Linked DNA regions of Homo sapiens: regions 1, 3 and 4 are each reported to be linked to region 2. The links are microRNA targets in miRTarBase. Many come from high-throughput screens and were not tested one by one. Region 2 holds a microRNA gene; each other region holds the end of a gene's coding sequence.

What was found. Region 2 holds the annotated microRNA hsa-miR-1323 (UCAAAACUGAGGGGCAUUUUCU, at 2,699-2,720, shown strand). A microRNA usually pairs through its seed, bases 2 to 8, with sites in the 3' UTR of a target mRNA and lowers its output. Matches are read on the target gene's strand: a 7mer-m8 pairs with bases 2 to 8, a 7mer-A1 pairs with bases 2 to 7 and ends in A, and an 8mer does both.
Region 1: miRTarBase lists FCHSD2 as a target of hsa-miR-1323. Seed matches in the 3' UTR shown: 7mer-A1 at 3,296-3,302.
Region 3: miRTarBase lists HNRNPC as a target of hsa-miR-1323. Seed matches in the 3' UTR shown: 7mer-m8 at 3,023-3,029.
Region 4: the mRNA of TLX3 is a reported target of hsa-miR-1323. Seed matches in the 3' UTR shown: 7mer-m8 at 3,355-3,361.

Annotation. Positions count from the first base shown.
Region 1 is chr11:72,835,332-72,839,331 of GRCh38, forward strand. FCHSD2 (FCH and double SH3 domains 2) reads right to left here. Exons shown (of 20, transcript NM_014824.3): 20 at 1,414-3,543. The coding sequence ends at 3,460. It also overlaps a transcript of ATG16L2 not described here. Among named protein-coding and RNA genes, the nearest start is that of ATG16L2, 23 kb to the left of the region's middle.
Region 2 is chr19:53,669,280-53,673,628 of GRCh38, forward strand. It overlaps MIR1323 (microRNA 1323), which reads left to right and starts at 2,689; the gene lies at 2,689-2,761. The region is part of intron 2 of LOC107985342 (a long non-coding RNA gene); the gene reads left to right. RefSeq lists an enhancer at 1-765.
Region 3 is chr14:21,207,995-21,211,994 of GRCh38, forward strand. It overlaps HNRNPC (heterogeneous nuclear ribonucleoprotein C), which reads right to left. Exons shown (of 9, transcript NM_004500.4): 7 at 3,816-3,929; 8 at 3,412-3,572; 9 at 1,153-3,312. The coding sequence ends at 3,229. Among named protein-coding and RNA genes, the nearest start is that of LINC00641, 3.1 kb to the left of the region's middle.
Region 4 is chr5:171,311,302-171,315,301 of GRCh38, reverse strand. TLX3 (T cell leukemia homeobox 3) reads right to left here. Exons shown (of 3, transcript NM_021025.4): 3 at 3,163-3,913. The coding sequence ends at 3,703. Among named protein-coding and RNA genes, the nearest start is that of TLX3, 4.1 kb to the right of the region's middle. RefSeq lists enhancers at 1,251-2,135, 3,906-4,000.

The sequences.
Region 1 (4,000 bases), not on the chromosome of region 2:
ACTATCAAGGACCCTAGTTCTGGAGGGAAGGACACTGAGAAGAGGCAGGAGAGGTGGTGGTGAGAAAAGGCAGGAGAGGTGGTGGTGAGGAGAGGTGGTGGTGAGGAGAGGTGGTGGTGAGAAGAGTTCGTGGTGACCAGCCTGTGGCACACTTTATATGGCCTTCCTGGAACCACAGTCTTATTCTCAGGTTCCAGATGAGGACACAGGCTCAGTCCCCATGGCTGTCAAGTGGCAGAGCCAGGATTTAACCCAGACCTCCTGGCTCCTAAGTCCATATGCGGTTGGTGGGAGTGTAAATGGATATAGTCCTTATAGGAAGCCAATTTGGCAAAATCTAACAAAATTAAATACATACCTTTTTGACCCTCAAATTCCACACTTAGGAATCTACCCAACATTTATACTGGAACATATTTTTTTTTTTTTTTTTTGAGACAGAGTTTCACTCTTGTTCCCCAGACTGGAGTGTAATGGCACAATCTCAGCTCACCGCAACCTCTGCCTCGCAGGTTCAAGCGATTCTCCTGCCTCAGCCTCCAGAGTAACTGGGATTACAGGCATGAGCTACCATGCCCAGCCAATTTTGTATTTTCGGTAGAGACTGGGTTTCTCCATGTTGGTCAGGCTGGTCTCAAACTCCTGACCTCAAGTGATCTGCCCGCCTCGGCCTCCCAAAGTGCTGGGATTACAGGCATGAGCCACTGCGCCCGGCTGAACACATTTTTATGTAAACAAGCAGTGTGTACACTTAAGAGTCTTATGCACAGGATAATGTCTGGAAAAATGCTTACTGCATGTCCCCAGCTCCAGGAAAGAGGAGAGCTTGTGGGGCCCTTCCCCAAACAGGCTGTGTCCTGGTCCTCAGTGTGGCTGGCTGGAAGCCAGGGGGACTCAGCCTTTGACTAAGAATGCTCCATCCACCCCTGGGACCGAGAAAATCTCCTTTCACACAATTCATTACTCCTTAGGGTGGAGGTTTAGGAAAGGGGAGAGGCATCCAGAATGCCCGCTTCCTGGAAGCCAGTGGTCACATCCGGCAAGGGGACTTCAGTGACCTTCCTCTCACCCCTCCAGCAGCAGAATCAGAGCTCCCTCCTCAGCTGCCTCTATGCTATCTGCCCCTCCCTTCTAGCACATGTCCCACAGTACTGTCCTCACGTATTTCTTTTTTTTCCCATGGGAAAAGCAAAGACCGTAACCTATTTACTGCCATCTCTAGTACCCAGGATATTACACCTAGCACATGGGGGCTTCAGGGACTGTCTGTCTCATAGATGGATTAATTTACTTTCTCCTCTCTCTGTCTGTTAGCTGGTTTAAAGGAGGGCCCAGGAATGTTTTTATAAGAAGCATGGGCCTTTTGGAAAGGTCTGTTTACCCAAACCTTTCTATATTAAAACTTAGAAAACATAATTCCATTTTTTTTATTATTCAACATTTTATACATAATAAATACAAACTTTTTACAGCCACTGTAAAGAAAGCACATCTGCACAGAGGCTCCCTCCGAGCCCTGACCTGTGCACTGTGGTGCTGGATTCCATATCCTGGATGGAGGGGTTATTTTTTAAAAAGGAGGCATGTTTTCACAACTTTGTTTTTTAAAATAAAATTAGCAGCTCTTCCAAAAAATATTTTAAAATACAACAAAAGATTTCAAATAACCCTTTGAGGTTGTGGAAAACCCAAATTCAAGGACAATTTGGCTAGCTAAAGACAGAATACAAGACTGGGTGGCAAGAACTGCTCTATTTAATAAGCATTTGAAGATTTTTAATATGTTAGCAAACTTTAAAATCTTAAAAAAACCACCCTTTTAATTTCTTTTTTAAACTTAAGAATAAGTTTGATAAACACAAAAGACCTCAAATAGATCAACAGGTTAAGAAGTGTAAAAAACAACAACGAAAAAAAACCCCAAATCATGGAGAAGATTCATTAATGGGTATTGTCACTGAAGTGATCAAAGAACTAAAAATTTCTTCAGTTATCACCTTACTTTTGGTCAAAAATCCCATGGGGACATTTGGCGAGCATTTCAAGTTTTTTAAGATTCTTAGGAGGGATGGAGTTTTCAAAGCATAATACAACTTGTAGATTAAATTCTGCAAATTTGATTTCTTAACCAAGGAAAAAAAAAAAAAACAAACCACAACCGGCGAACATCCCTTAGTCCCTAGGTATTGTGCTCCCTACCTTCTACAGGAGCGGACAGCAGACAGTCAGCACCTGACGTGGGGGCACCTGCTGCTGCAGGCTTGCTGGCCTGCAGAGAAGGCCACTCCTGGCTTTCCCTGTGACACACAGAAGACACTTGTCTTTTCCTGGTCAATCTGTACTTGTGCAGGGTGCGCAATCCTTCAGTCCTTTCTCATAGAAAGCTGGTTTCCTCCACGAGCCACCAGGTTCTTCCTTCCACGGAAATGTCAGGGTAGTGGGACCTGGAAGCTGCATTTTCCACCATAGCAGTTGGTCTGGACCAGCCACAGCCTGGCTGTCTGGGCCGGTCTGCTGGCTTGGGAATAAAATAATGCCGGGGCGTCCCCAGTAGAGAAGCTCAACAATGCAGGTATGTGTCCTCAACTTATCTAGACATTTGGATTCTAAGGATACTGGTAAGAAGAGTATATGCTGTAAAAATTAAGATGAAAAATACCCAAATACAAAAGAACATTATATTGGCTAATTTCAGATCCGGAAGTTCCATTTCTGCTTTAGCCACAGCCTCCTTTCTATTAGTCTATGTGATGAACAAGATGTGGCTACTAGTTCAGCCCCTCCATATTAGCTCTGCTAATTCTAAATGAATGGCACAGATATTAATACGAAGGACACTGTTATTTTAAGTCTGTTAGTTGTGGAAGAGATGTGCGTTAATGCAATTGGTGCTAAATTCAGGGCAGTCCAATTTTTCCCAATAAGGTTTCACTTTCTCAGTCTGGGGACTAACCTTGGGGAGGAGCCAGCCTCTCCTGAAATCCCTCCTTCTGTTTCCTTATGTAGCCAACATGATCTGATTAATTCTCAATCAGATGAGCAAAAGCCACTTGAAGAAAGATGAGAATCTTTGCCACATCCTTGTGGTCACAGTAATATACTGTACGAGTGCACATGATCAGTAATTTAGGGACTGTGCCCTGGAATGAGGCCTGTTCTTGAGTCTCATATAAAAACAGACCACTGTTAGGCATGAGGGCTGCCCCCCTCTTTGCTCCTAGGGTCCGCTAGGATTTGTGCTATGGTAGGAGAAATGACATAGAAAATGACAACAAAAAAAAAAGGCACGAAATATTCAAAACGTGGGAGGAGTCTACCAGGCCACCCAGTCACACATAATCCTCCTTGTTTTTTGCTCTGTTCAAGAGTCATCATCATGCAAAGGTGCCTAAAAAACAAGACTGGCCAAACTCCAAGCCTGGCCTTGATTGTAGCAGTAATGGATGGGCAAGCCCATCATCACACCAGTGTGATTTCCACATCTTCAATCTTCTCTGCTGGCCTTCGGTGATTCTGTGTAGGTGGAGGGGGAGCTGCCCGGACCTGAGCAGGAAACAATTACGTAGTTTGTCAGTCAGTTCCTGACTCAGTATCTGAAGCATCCCCAAAACCTAATCACTCATCTGTCCAAGGACATGGGCACCCTAGGGGTCTCAGAAATGTTGTGAGCACGTGCTTTCAACCTAGTCTTCACTATTTCCTACACTGAGAAGCAGTTGTTCTCAATGAAATATCAAGCCCACAAATCAGCTTCTTGCCTAGGCTAAAAACCTCATGGGCACAAGTCCTATGACTAAGATCCTAGCACATCCTCCAAAGCAAAGGTCTGGCTGGAAGCAAGGGAGAGCAATGCTTAGAGAAATGAAACATTTCAGTGTGTCTTGGGTAGAGAGTTACAAAAGAGAAGGCTAGAAAGGTAGGCTAGGGTTAAGTTGTGAAGGGCCTTGTTAAACCATGTTTAAACATCTGCTTTAAGAAGAAAAAAATAAATCTGTGCTTT
Region 2 (4,349 bases):
GGGCGGGGGGCTCCAGGAGCCACTGCAGGTAAAAGCTAAACCGTGGTGCTTGTTCTGCGCCATAAACTGGACTTCAGCCCAGCTTTAAGGAAATGACCAGGGTCTCTGGGTTGTGAGGCTGGGTTCCGTAGCAGCTATAATGCTTGGATTCAGGGATAGCCTGGGTCACACCATTGCCAGAGAAGAGGCAACCAATCCAGACCCCAAAAGCGGGTTCTTGGATCTCTTGCTGGAAAGAATTTCGAGGCAAGTCACAACACAATGAAAGAAGCAAGCTGAGGCCGGGCGCGGTGGCTCACGCCTGTAATCCCAGCACTTTGGGAGGCTGAGGTGGATGGATCACCTGAGATCACTATTTTTCTTTTTATTTTCTGAGATGGAGTTTCACTCTTGTTGCCCAGGCTAGAGTGCAATGGCACGATCTCGGCTCACAGCAACCTCTGCCTCCCGGGTTCAAGCCATTCTCCTGCCTCAGCCTCCGGAGTAGCTGGGATTACTGGCATGCGCCACCACGCCCAGCTAATTTTGTATTTTTAGTAGAGACGGGGTTTCTCCATGTTGGTCAGACTGGTCTCCAACTCCCAACCTCAGGTGATCCGCCCGTCTCGGCCTCACAAAGTGCTAGGATTACAGGCGTGAGCCACCGCACCCAGCCTGTTTTCTGCATTTTTAGTAGAGACAGAGTTTCACTATGTTGGCCAGGCTGGTCTCAAACTCCCGACCTTGTGATCTGCCCGCCTCGGATTCCCAAAGTGCTGGGATTACAGGCGTGAGCCACCGCGCCCGGCCTTATTTTTCTTTTTTTTTTTTTGAGACAGGATCCCACTCTATTGCCCAGCCTGGAGTGCAGTGCAGTGATCTCAGCTCACTGCAACCTCTGCCTCCCGGGTTCAAGCAATTCTCCTGCATCAGCCGCCCAAGTAGCTGAGATTACAGCCGTGCCTGGCTTATGTTTTGTGTTTTTAGTGGAGATGGGGTGCCACCATGCTGGCCAGGCTGGTCTTAAACTCCTGACCTCAGTTGATCCTCCCACCTCAGTCTCCCAAAGTGCTGGGATTACAGGTGTGAGCCACCGCGCCCAGCAAGCATAAGATTTTTTGACACATGGAGGATCACTTGCTGGATGTGCACTGAGAAGTAATGTGCCCATTTCCCAGCCACACTCTCCCAAAGGCTTTTACAGGCGCTGTCCCCGTGAGGTGGTAGAACAGAATGTCAGAATTCAACACATTCCAACACTGTCTTCTGTTGAGCTGTAGGAGGACTGCCTGTGGAGGGACATGGGTTCTATGCTACCTTGCAGGTTTTCCCTGGGGCTTGTGATCACTGTCTCCTTGGTGACATGCAATCTGGGAGTGCTTTCTGGAGTCTGATAAGAACATACTGGCACATTGCCTGTGACGTGTGGGACCCAGGCATTTTCAGTGCTGAGGTGAGTCCTTGATTGTAACTGATGGGGACTGGTATCTTAACTCCAGGTTACTGAAGACTAGGAATTTCTTGCCTTACAGTAAAATTGCAAAGAAGAGTAGCATAAGAGGTAGATCAGAAGACTGCAGAATAGATTAACAAATGAATGCCCAAATGAGGATGCTAAACTTGGATTTGCATCAAGAAGACAGATATTGGTCGGGCGTGGTGGCTCACGCCTGTAATCCCAGCACTTTGGGAGGCTGAGGCGGGTGGATCATCCTGGCTAACACGGTGAAACCCCGTCTCTACTAAAAAAATACAAAAAAATTAGCCGGGCGTGGTGGCAGGCGCCTGTAGTCCCAGCTGCTGGGGAGGCTGAGGCAGGAGAATGGCATGAACCCAGGAGGCGGAGCTTGTAGTGAGCCGAGATCGTGCCACTGCACTTCACCCTGGGCGACAGAGCGAGACTCTGTCTCAAAAAAAAAAAGGACAGGTATTAGGATAGTTTTGAAGCCCACTTGCTCCTATCATGGCATTGAAGCATCAGTTTGCTGCCAATCACTCCTTCTTCTGTGTTCATAGACAGGACTGTGGAAATGTACACTTGGATTCTTTCACAGGTAATGCTGAGAAATTTAAAACCAAAAACGGCCGGGTGCCGTGGCTCCTGCCTGTAATTCTAGCACTTTGGGAGGCTGAGGCGGGCGGATCACAAGGTCAGGAGTTCGAGAGCAGCCTGGCCAATATGGTGAAACCCCATCTCCACTAAAAATACAAAAATTAGCCTGGCATAGTGGCGGGCCCCTGAAGTCCCAGCTACTCAGGAGACTGAGTAGACGAGGAGAATGGCTTGAACATGGGGTGCAGAGGTTGCAGTGAGCTGAGATCGCACCGCTGCACTCCAGCCTGGGCAACAAGAGTGAAACTCTGTCTCAAAAAAAAAAAAAAATTTGAAATTAAAGTGTATGATTAGAGTGCATGATTGGTTCTGACTGGATGTGTAACATGTGCATAGCCTTCTCATAAATCAAAGGTTTTTATGTGAAACCTACCACTAGTGATGTAACTGAATTTGTGTAAATGCTGGTGTGTCTGCCTTTTCCTAGCAACTCCCTGGGCAGCCTGAGGATTCTTTGAGGTTATTTTTTTTCAAGATCTGGCTGGGAGCTTCTGCATGAGTGCTGTGTGAACGTCCTCCATCTGCAGTGTGAGGACAGCGAACCCTAGTGTGAGTTAACCACGTAGGAAGAGTTTGAAGTCAGACATGACATTCAGACTGAGGTCCTCAAAACTGAGGGGCATTTTCTGTGGTTTGAAAGGAAAGTGCACCCAGTTTTGGGGATGTCAATTGTGAATCCTCATCATAACCCATCCCCAGTCCCCCATCGCATTGCACCACATGGATGCACCCAGTGGACTGGCCTTTGCTTTTCTATTGTTTCTTTTTCTCTCCACTGCAATCAGCTTTCTCACGTTGAATGCATTCCATTTTCTAAGCGCTCTCCTAGGCAAAAATCCCTCTAATGCAAAGCAAAAATGTCTGTTATGCAACATTGTTCTGAGACCCCAGGAATTGCAGTTAACTTGGCTCCTTAGTATGTGCTTCCTAAGGCGGGTGGGGTGGCTCGCGCCTGTAGTCCCAGCACTTTGGGAGGCAGGCGAGGCACTTGAAACCCTGTCTCTACTAAAAATACAAAAATTAGCTGGACATGGTGGCATGTGCCTGTAATCCCAGCTACTTGGGAGGTGCAGACAGGAGCATCGCTTGAACCCAGGAGGCAGAGGTTGCAGTGAGCCAAGATAATGGCACTGTACTGCAACCTGGGTGACAGAGCGAGACTCAAAAAAAAAAAAAAGTGCTTCCTGTGAAGGTTTCCTTTCCCTTCTGCCCCCCATACCAGTCCATCTATTTAGTAGATGTCCTGGTTTCTACCCAGGATATCATGGACCAGGGGTTCTGTCTTCCAGCCTTGAGTACAATGGTGCGACTATAGCTCACTGCAGTCTCAACCTCCTGGGCTCAAGTGATCATCCTGCCTCAGCCTCCAAGTAGCTGGTATTACAGATGCACGTGCCCCCATTCCCAGAGGTTCTTAAATTTATGACAAAAACCCAGAAGCTTGGCTGAAGCAGCTTGTTGGGGCCCACCCACAGATTTTGTTTGGTGCCATAGACCTGGGTTGGGATCTGGGGAGCCATTTTTCTTAGTCTCAATGTAAATGTCTAAGCATTTTCTTTTTTTCTTTCTTTTTTTTTTTTTGAGACAGGGTTTCGCTCTTGTTGCCTAAACTGGAGTGCAGTGGCACAATCTCGGCTCACTGCAACCTCTGCCTCCTGGGTTCAAGTGATTCTCCTGCCTCAGCCTCCCAAGTAGCTGGGATTACAGGTGTGCACCACCATGCCCGGCTAATTTTTTTTTATTTTTTTATTTTTTTTATTTTTTGAGATGGAGTCTTGCTCTGTTGCCCAGGCTGGAGTGCAGTGGTGTGATCTCGGATCACTGCAAGCTCCGCCTCCTTGATTCATGCCATTCTCCTGCCTCAGCCTCCCGACTAGCTGGGACTACAGGTGCCCGCCACCACGCCCAGCTAATTTTTTTGTATTTTTAGTAGAGACGGGGTTTCACTGTGTTAGCCAGGGTGGTCTCGGTCTCCTGATCTCGTGATCTGCCTGCCTCGGCCTCCCAAAGTGCTGGGATTACAGGCTTGAGTCACTGCCCCTGGCCAATTTTTTGTATTTTTAGTAGAAATGGAGTTTCACCATGTTTCCTGCCTATCTCTCTATGTATTTAGACAGGGTCTCACTATGTTGCCCAGGTTGGTCTCAAACTCCTGGACTCAAGCAATCCTCCTGCCTCCACCTTCCAAAGTGCTGGGACTACAGGCTTGAGCCATCCTGCCTGACCATTTGAGAGTTTTTTTTTTTTGAGATGGAGT
Region 3 (4,000 bases), not on the chromosome of region 2:
CATCAGAAGTGAAATACAAGAGGAGCCCTCCTTTTGAGAATCCCAAATTTAGCATCCATTCCCACCTGACAGCTTCCAGTTAGCTCATCCCACTGAGACAGCAGCAATTTATTAATTACCCTAGAAGAAGTTTCCCAATTATACGTTATGCAGCACCAGAAAAAAATGTTACTAAGGATTTTTTATCTACCTCCTCTCCTGCTTTCTAACCCTGAAATGAAAACTGCATTCTTGAATGATTGCAGGACATTTTCTTAGATTTCATGGCATATTGAGAAACTTGTGTTCTGAATTTTATCCCAAATTAAAATGTTTTTACTTTTAAATCTTACTTCCACTACTGCAGTGTAATCAGACTATCAATCTGAAATCCCTCAATTATTAAATCAGAAATCACTCAATTATTACCGTCAGATCTAACCCCTTTACCTGCACTGCCATGCCTACTATTCTGAATTTCTATTGAGCCAACTCAATTCTTACTTTGCAGGGCCCAGGGTTAAGTAATGTCACACTGACTATAAGCATATCATCTGATAAATGGCCTTTAAAAACACTAGCCCCTTTCCCAAAAAGCCTGTACTTATCTGCATTAGATCAGATTTTTAAAAGCCTTTTACCATGTGGTATTTCAATCCTGGTCTCTTTACTTTGCTACAGTTTTGGCCTAGGAACCTAAATGTCAAAGTACTCAATGAGTACACCTGTGATTATAGAAAACCTAGAGTACTGTTGTCTTAAACACGAGGAAATTTAAGCCACAGTAGCGTAGCCTAAAACCAAGAGCGTGAAATGACTTCCCCATCAACACAAACTAGACATGTCAGTATTCCAACAACCCTACCATATGTGTGTATAGATTTTCAATCTGTGATCATGCTCTACGGCTATTTGCAAAAGTAACTGCAGCTAATTAAAAGTAATGGCAAAAGCCACAATTACTTTTGCACCAACCTAATATTAAAAAGCGCTCTCCACAGCTTCATTCAATACCTGCTTTCCTAGAATAAAATGTATAGTTGGCCCCCCATGTTCATGGGTTCTGCACATGCAGATTCAGCCAACTACAGATCGAAAATACTAGCAAAGAAAAAAAACTAAAAAAAGTTAACAAAAATATAAATAAAAAAAGTTACAACTATTTACATACCATTTACATTTTATCAGGTATTTTAATGTAGAGATGATTTAAAATATACAGGAGAATATGCATAGGTTACATATAAATACTATGCCATTTTATGTAAGGGACTTGAACATCTGCAGATTGTGGTGTTCACAGCTAAACAGACTGCTCTGTGCAGGGAGAGGCCCTACAGTGAAGGGAAAAGTAGACACTTGATTGTGGACTAATTTGTTCAGTATTTCCCAAAAACTTACAGCTAACAATAATATTAAACAGGTTTTATTAGCATCTTATACATCTGACACTCTCTCCTAAGCATCCAGTTTATTTTCTAGTCACGGGTTACTTACTAAAAGTCTGTGTAACATGAGCTCACATCAGATTAGAAAACATCAAGTGGGTAGTATTTTTGACTGAATTAACATACAAAAGAAATTGCCTATATCATGTATATGGGCTCCAAGGGTAGTTCATACTTCAGCCTCTTCATTCTTTTCTGCTTTTGTCACCTGTTACAGAAAATGATCTATAAAATCCTCATAAATAAGACATGAGTTTTGCCTGTAATGAGTAGGATGAAAAAAGGCCAGTGCCGCATGCTATGAAACAATAGCAACTTTACAGGGGAATCCAAGGTTTGTGTGCACAAAAATTATAAGCGGCATTTTCTGCTATGCTGGAAAAACTGAAGTATAAAACACAAATGAACTAAGCCTTTCAAGGATGAGGTATCACCAACACTGGTAGCTGTTTAATATATTCATCTTACAACTGGATGCTAAAAATGCAATCACTGTAATTAATAAAGTTGAGGAAAACACAAAGATTAGCTAACAGGGGTAAAAGATCATTTAGAGTAAAATAAATGTGTAACATTCTCTATGTTCTCAATCACCTGGGAAGGCAGTCTATGGAATATCAGGAAGTAAGAGTTTTCTTGTTTTCAGGAACATGGAGGTATATACACTTCAGAATTCAGAAGGTAACTGGGGCTATAAATAGTAATTAAAAGAACAAAATAGAAGCAGGGGGGTTCCATTATGCAGCTGTCGCCATTTTCCTGAAATCTTGATGTTTTTGAGCCTCTCCTATTTAAGGACAAAACCATTTAGCACAAAACACAAACCTCAGAAAGGGTGCCAGCTGGACCACAAAGCACTGATGAAAAGGCAGAGAGGATATACTTCCCAAACTTTCATTAGGATGTAAAAGCCATTTTGAAAAAGTCTCCACTCTATGTCAAGTTGACTCCTCAATGCAACATGCATCTCAATGAAATATAATTTGAGTAGTGTTGTGTTGGTATGCATCATGATTATGACTCCAAGAAAAATATATCTAGTGCATTCTAGAGGTTTTGTGGAGGACGCTGTAAAACAAAGTTTGAAGTAAACAATAATAAAATACAAAAATAAAAAACCAGGGTTTTTTTTTTCTCCAAATTCCTGGTTTAATAAGGACTTGTTTATTTTGAGGAAAAAAGGTCCCAAACATCAGGCTGTTCACAAAAATAACCCACAGTATCAACTTTAGAAAACAAATCTTAAGACTATAACACTAATTATTTTTCTAGAGGATGCATTTGACATGCCAACTCTCATTCACAAAAATACATTGTTACATTTGTGTTGAACTGCCCCACACAGCACACTAATGTGAGGGTGTAACACACATACTTCTAACTCAAAGCTGCTTTCAAGAGCTACTCAACTAAATGAGATTGCCTTTGCAGTTAGGGAAGCAACTACTGAACTTATGTATGAATGAAAAGAACTGTACTCCCTGCATAACAAGAGATTATTTTGGAGACAGTTGATAAAAACCATACATCCTTTTTATTGTTAAGTCATAAAGAGGTATCAAAATTAAAAGCAAAAATTACAGGGTAAGACTTAACAAAACTACTAGGAGCGTCAAAGGAAGTGAAAATGGGACTAGGCGCGGGGCAATATGAATTAATGAACATGGGAAGGACAAGGATGGGGAGAACAGTGAGCATGTGCTGAAGATACTAGGGGAGAGGATCTGGTGAAAAATTTGATCTTAGACAAGCGCCTAGGTAAAGAAATAATGGGATAAGATTTCTAAACCCCACTATGTGCTTAAGAGTCATCCTCGCCATTGGCGCTGTCTCTGTCATCCTCTCCTTCCTCAGCCTCTTTTTCATCATCCTTGATCAACTCCAGCTGTGAGAAACAGACACAAACAGGATGGAGTTAGAGGCACTCCATGTGTCCCTGAGCCCCCCTCCACCACCTTTTTCTTTCCTTTCCCGTGGTTTTCACCTGGTCATCCCCCCGATCTTCATTATCATCATCATCCAGTAGGTCCCCCTCCTCAGCAGAGTCATCTGCACCCCCCTCAGACTCCATCTTCACATTAGTCTCATCTTTCTTCACGGAGCTGCTGCTCTGCTCCTCTTCTGACTTATCATTCTTCATCTCTACTGCGGATGAGAAGGACAAGTCTGTCTAGGGGCAGTAATGTCCACAGGACGTAGACAATCCCCACTAAGGATCACAGAACTGCAGCACAAATCTAAATCCTCCCACACAAATACCCTTCCCAATTCACACTCCCCAAGTTTCATATTACATTGCTTTATATTCCACTATTCCAACATGTACTTTCAAGTGCCTTATGTAACTAACCCAACTGTATACCAAGGGCAAGCAGAAAACCCATTTACCTGCTTGTTTGCTCTGTTCCTTTTCAATTTTTTCCAGGTTTTCCAGGAGAGAATCCACTTTTTGTTTTATCTGGGTCAGCTCCTTCTTAATGGCCTGAAGGTCATCTCCTTTCACTTTAATATAAACAAAATACTAGATTAAAATCAAATGTACCGAAGATATGAGTTAGCAAATACACTGCCAC
Region 4 (4,000 bases), not on the chromosome of region 2:
CTTCTCGTCCTCCATCCAGTCCTCGGCCGGGCTGGGCGCCAACACTCGGCCGCCTGCCTCCGTAGCCTTGGCCTAAGGCTGGGAGACGATCGCAAAGGAGGCCCCCTCGTGGGGCCCCTCAGGCTACTCCAGATTCCTTTTTTCTTAAGCACAGCCTCAGGGGAGCCTGCCCCATCCAGATATTACCGTTGCCCCGATTCTGCCCATAGCTCGCGTGGCTGGGGGCAGTGGGAGGTGTGTCTCCTACTGAGGACGAGGAGTCGTCGGACTTCAGTCCCGCGCAGCCACGTTGGAAACGGCGACCTAGCGGCTTGGCAACCCAGGAGGAGGGGGTTAGGCGTTAAACGCCCTTGCGCCGCTCGGCAATCGCTCCCACCCGCTGGGGGCGCCCACATTGCTCTGGGTGGAGGTGGCCGAGAGATAGTCGCTACTTGGCACCACATGAGTGGGCTCAGCTCTGTAACAGGAAAAGACCCGTAGCCCGTCTCTGGCTGGGCAAGGCTGGGTGAGGGCAAAGCGCTGGAAGACGCCAAACGCCGCGAAGGCACTAGGTGCGGGAAAGCCAGGCGCCCCCCGAGGGCCGAAGCCAGACCGGCCCCCCACCCCCGGCCTGCCTGGACGCCTACCCCGGACGGGCCTCCGGGCCAGAGGCCTTCTGCGCAAAGCGAGGCGCCCAACAGAAAGAAAAAAAAACAACGTGCGTGTGTCTCCAAAGAGGCCCAAAGAATTGAGTGTCACCCTGGCAAAACAACAGAAGTAATTTTGAAAAACAAAAATACTAGGCCTTATAAGAATGATACGTTGGGCCGGGGGCGGGGGCTCACGCCTGTAATCCCAGCACTTTGGGAGGCCGAGGCGAGCGGATCACGAGGTCAAGAGATGGAGACCATCTTGGCCAACATGGTGAAACCCCGTCTCTACTAAAAATATAAAAAATTAGCCAGGCGTGGTGACTCGCGCCTGTAGTCCCAGGTACTCCGGAGGCTGAGGCAGGAGAATCGCTTGAACCCAGGAGGCGGAGGTTGCAGTGAGCCGAGATCGCGCCACTGCACTCTAGCCTGGCGACAAAGGGAGACTCCGTCTCAGAAAAAAAGAAAGAAAGAATGATACGTTGGATTTTGGGGCCTGTGGGGGAGGGTGGAGGGGCGAGGGATAAAAGACTACACATTGAGTAGAGTGTACACTGCTCGGGTGATGGACGCCCCAAAATCTCAGAAATCACCACTAAAGAACTTATTCATGTAACCAAACGCCACCTGACCATCTGTTCCCCAAAAGCGCGTTGAAATAAAAACAATTAAGAAAAAAAACCCCGCTAGGCCTTATTATGGAGCAACAGAATAAAACGGAACGGAAGGGAGCTGGACCGCGACACCCGTCTCTGAGGAAAGCGCTTCTCCGCCAGCAAAGTCAAGGGTCCCTCTAGTCCTCAGCCGAAGGGCCAACCTTTCCCAACCCGATGACGGCGTTCATCAGGCTTTTTATTGGAGAAAATAAAAGCATTTCAGGAAAACACTCACGGAAGAGACCCGAAGTTCTGAGTCACCCTAGTCCCTCCCTGGGTGTCTTTATGTCCTGAAAGGCGCAGATCCCAGGCTAGCTGGGCTTGGAGGTGGAGGTGACGGCGGGAGCGCTGGGGGTTCAAGGTGTTTCTCAGGCGCCCTCCCCTTCCTCCAGCCCTGCAGGTGAATACAGTCCCGCAGCCCGCATAGAACGAAGGCTCGGAGCACGGGAACCTGCAGGGTGGCGCACGGCTCCGGCTCCGAGGGAGGCAGTGGGATGAGGCGGGTGGGGGTGCTCGTGGAGTGGGAGGGGTGCTCTGGGACGCGGCCCCGAAAGTGTTTTGCCTTAGGAGCTACTGGGAGCTGGGCCTGGAAGAGGGAGAGAGGGAGTCAGGGAGAAAGGAAAGAAGAGAGAGAGAGAGAGAGAGAGAGAGAGAGAGAGAGAGAAAGACAGATACATAAAGGCAAAGAGATTCAAGAAACAAGAAAGGGAAGACAAAAGGACAAGAGGACCGTGGAGAGGAGGGAGACAAAGAAACCCAGAGACACACAGAGGCCAAGAGTCAGAACTGGGGAGAGAAGAAGGAGGAGACGACGGAACAAGAAAAGGCTGAGGGCAATGAAAAGCAATAGAGGACGAACTATACTGGGAAACATCATAAATCTGTAAAGAAAAGGAGAAAGATATAGTAAAACAGAGACCCAGAGTAACATACAGAGGAGAAAACAGGGAACATTGTAGAGAAAGAAACGGAGAGGCCAGAAAGTAAGTTTTCAGAAGACTGAAAGCGAGAATGATAAAAGAGGGGGAAAAATCAAAGAACTAGAGGAAGTGTTCACGGGCTTTGTGTGTTAGATGTGACTGGAAGGGGTCAGCCGCTCCAAACCTCGCAATTCTGAAACTTCCAGCTCTTGAGCCACGGTGGAGCTGGGTGGACCCCGGCCACGACGCTACCACACCAGCGCTTAGAGTTCTGAGTTCCGGGCGCCCCGCCCACTCCAGCCCAGTGACACCGCGGGGGCTGCGGTGACGTCACATGACGTCACGCTCCACCTGGGGTCCCACGCAAACCCGACAAGGAGAGGGCCCCTAGGGTTGTGCGCTGCATTTGCTCCCCAGGCGTTTGGAGACCGAGGATTTGCAGCGGCTCTGCGCGCAAAGCCTGCCCACAGCGCGCGCAGACTGGCCAGAGCCAGGTCCTCTCTGAGGCTCCGCGGGAAAAAGAGGGCGGAAAGCGAGTTGCGGGGTGAAGTGGGGCTCCGAGTTCCGACTTGAGCTCTAAGAAGTTCGAGGCCACCCTGCCTCCCACCCCCCAGGTGGATTTGACCTGGGGACGGCCTAGGCATCTGCCCAGGCCCAGCCTTTCACTCCCCAGCCCGCCCCGGCGCTGGCCCGCGGCCTTCGGGCCTGGAGCACCTTTCCCATGTCCAGTCCCCATCCCGTGCGCACCCAGGCTGCGGGTGGCCGGCACCAACTGACCTGCACCGCGCATCCTCCTCGGGGGCCCGGGCCGGGGTTGCAGCCGAGGCGAATGCAGACGAACGTTGCGGAAGTGGACGCGCCCTGCGCGCCGCCGCTCGGCTTCTACCGCCGCAGGGGTGGGGCGCAGGGCCGGGGGTCGCCGAGCATTATTGGAACGAAAACGAAATAAAAGCGGCGTTAAGTGAAATAGCTAACTTTTTTATTAAATAAAAAGACTTAAATAAAAGGAACGGAAAAGAAGAAGAGTGGACCCAGCCTAAACGCAGGGTGCCCCGGGCCCCTGGCACTTCCCCCAGCGGCCGGGTCGGCTGCCCTTCCTCCAGCGGCCCCCGCGGGGGAAGCAGGTGGCCGGTTTCTAAAGAAAAAAGCCAAAACTTTTTTATTATTTACACGTTTGGGCAAAAGTACAAAGTATAATACAGGCGCCCGGCCCGGGGGGTGCGGGCGGGGGGCGGAGAAACGTAAGGCGCTTTCTTGTCAGGCCCGGGCCTGGGGCGGGACGGGGCGCGGGGCGGGGGCTCGGATTGTGCGGCCGCGCGGAGCTCGGGCCCTACCCCCTTCCGCGGCCCGCCAGTCTGTGGCCGCGCCCTGGGGCCTACTCGGGCTAGGCGGCCCCTTCCCCTCTCGGCGCCGGTTCCCCCGCAGCCCGCCTGGGGGGTCCGGGGCGCCCGGCTGGGTGGGGGCGGCGATCCGTGGCGACGGTGCGCGCTGGTGGGCTCACACCAGGGAGGTGACAGCGGGAACCTTGGAACTATCCTCCTCCCAGGGCTGCAGATTCTGCAGAGCAAAGAGTGACGAGTTGTGCAGACAGAGCGGGTCAGGCTGGATGGAGTCGTTGAGGCTCTTTTGGAAGGCGTCGTGTTGCAGCTGCAGCATGAGCCGGCTCGCCTGCTGCCGCTCCGCCTCCCGCTCCTCCGCCGTCTGCCGCCTGCACCGGGGGAGGGAGAGGGACAGTACCGTCATGCACCCGGCACCGCGGGGCCGCCGGCGGGGCCCCGGCCCTCCCGGGAGCCGA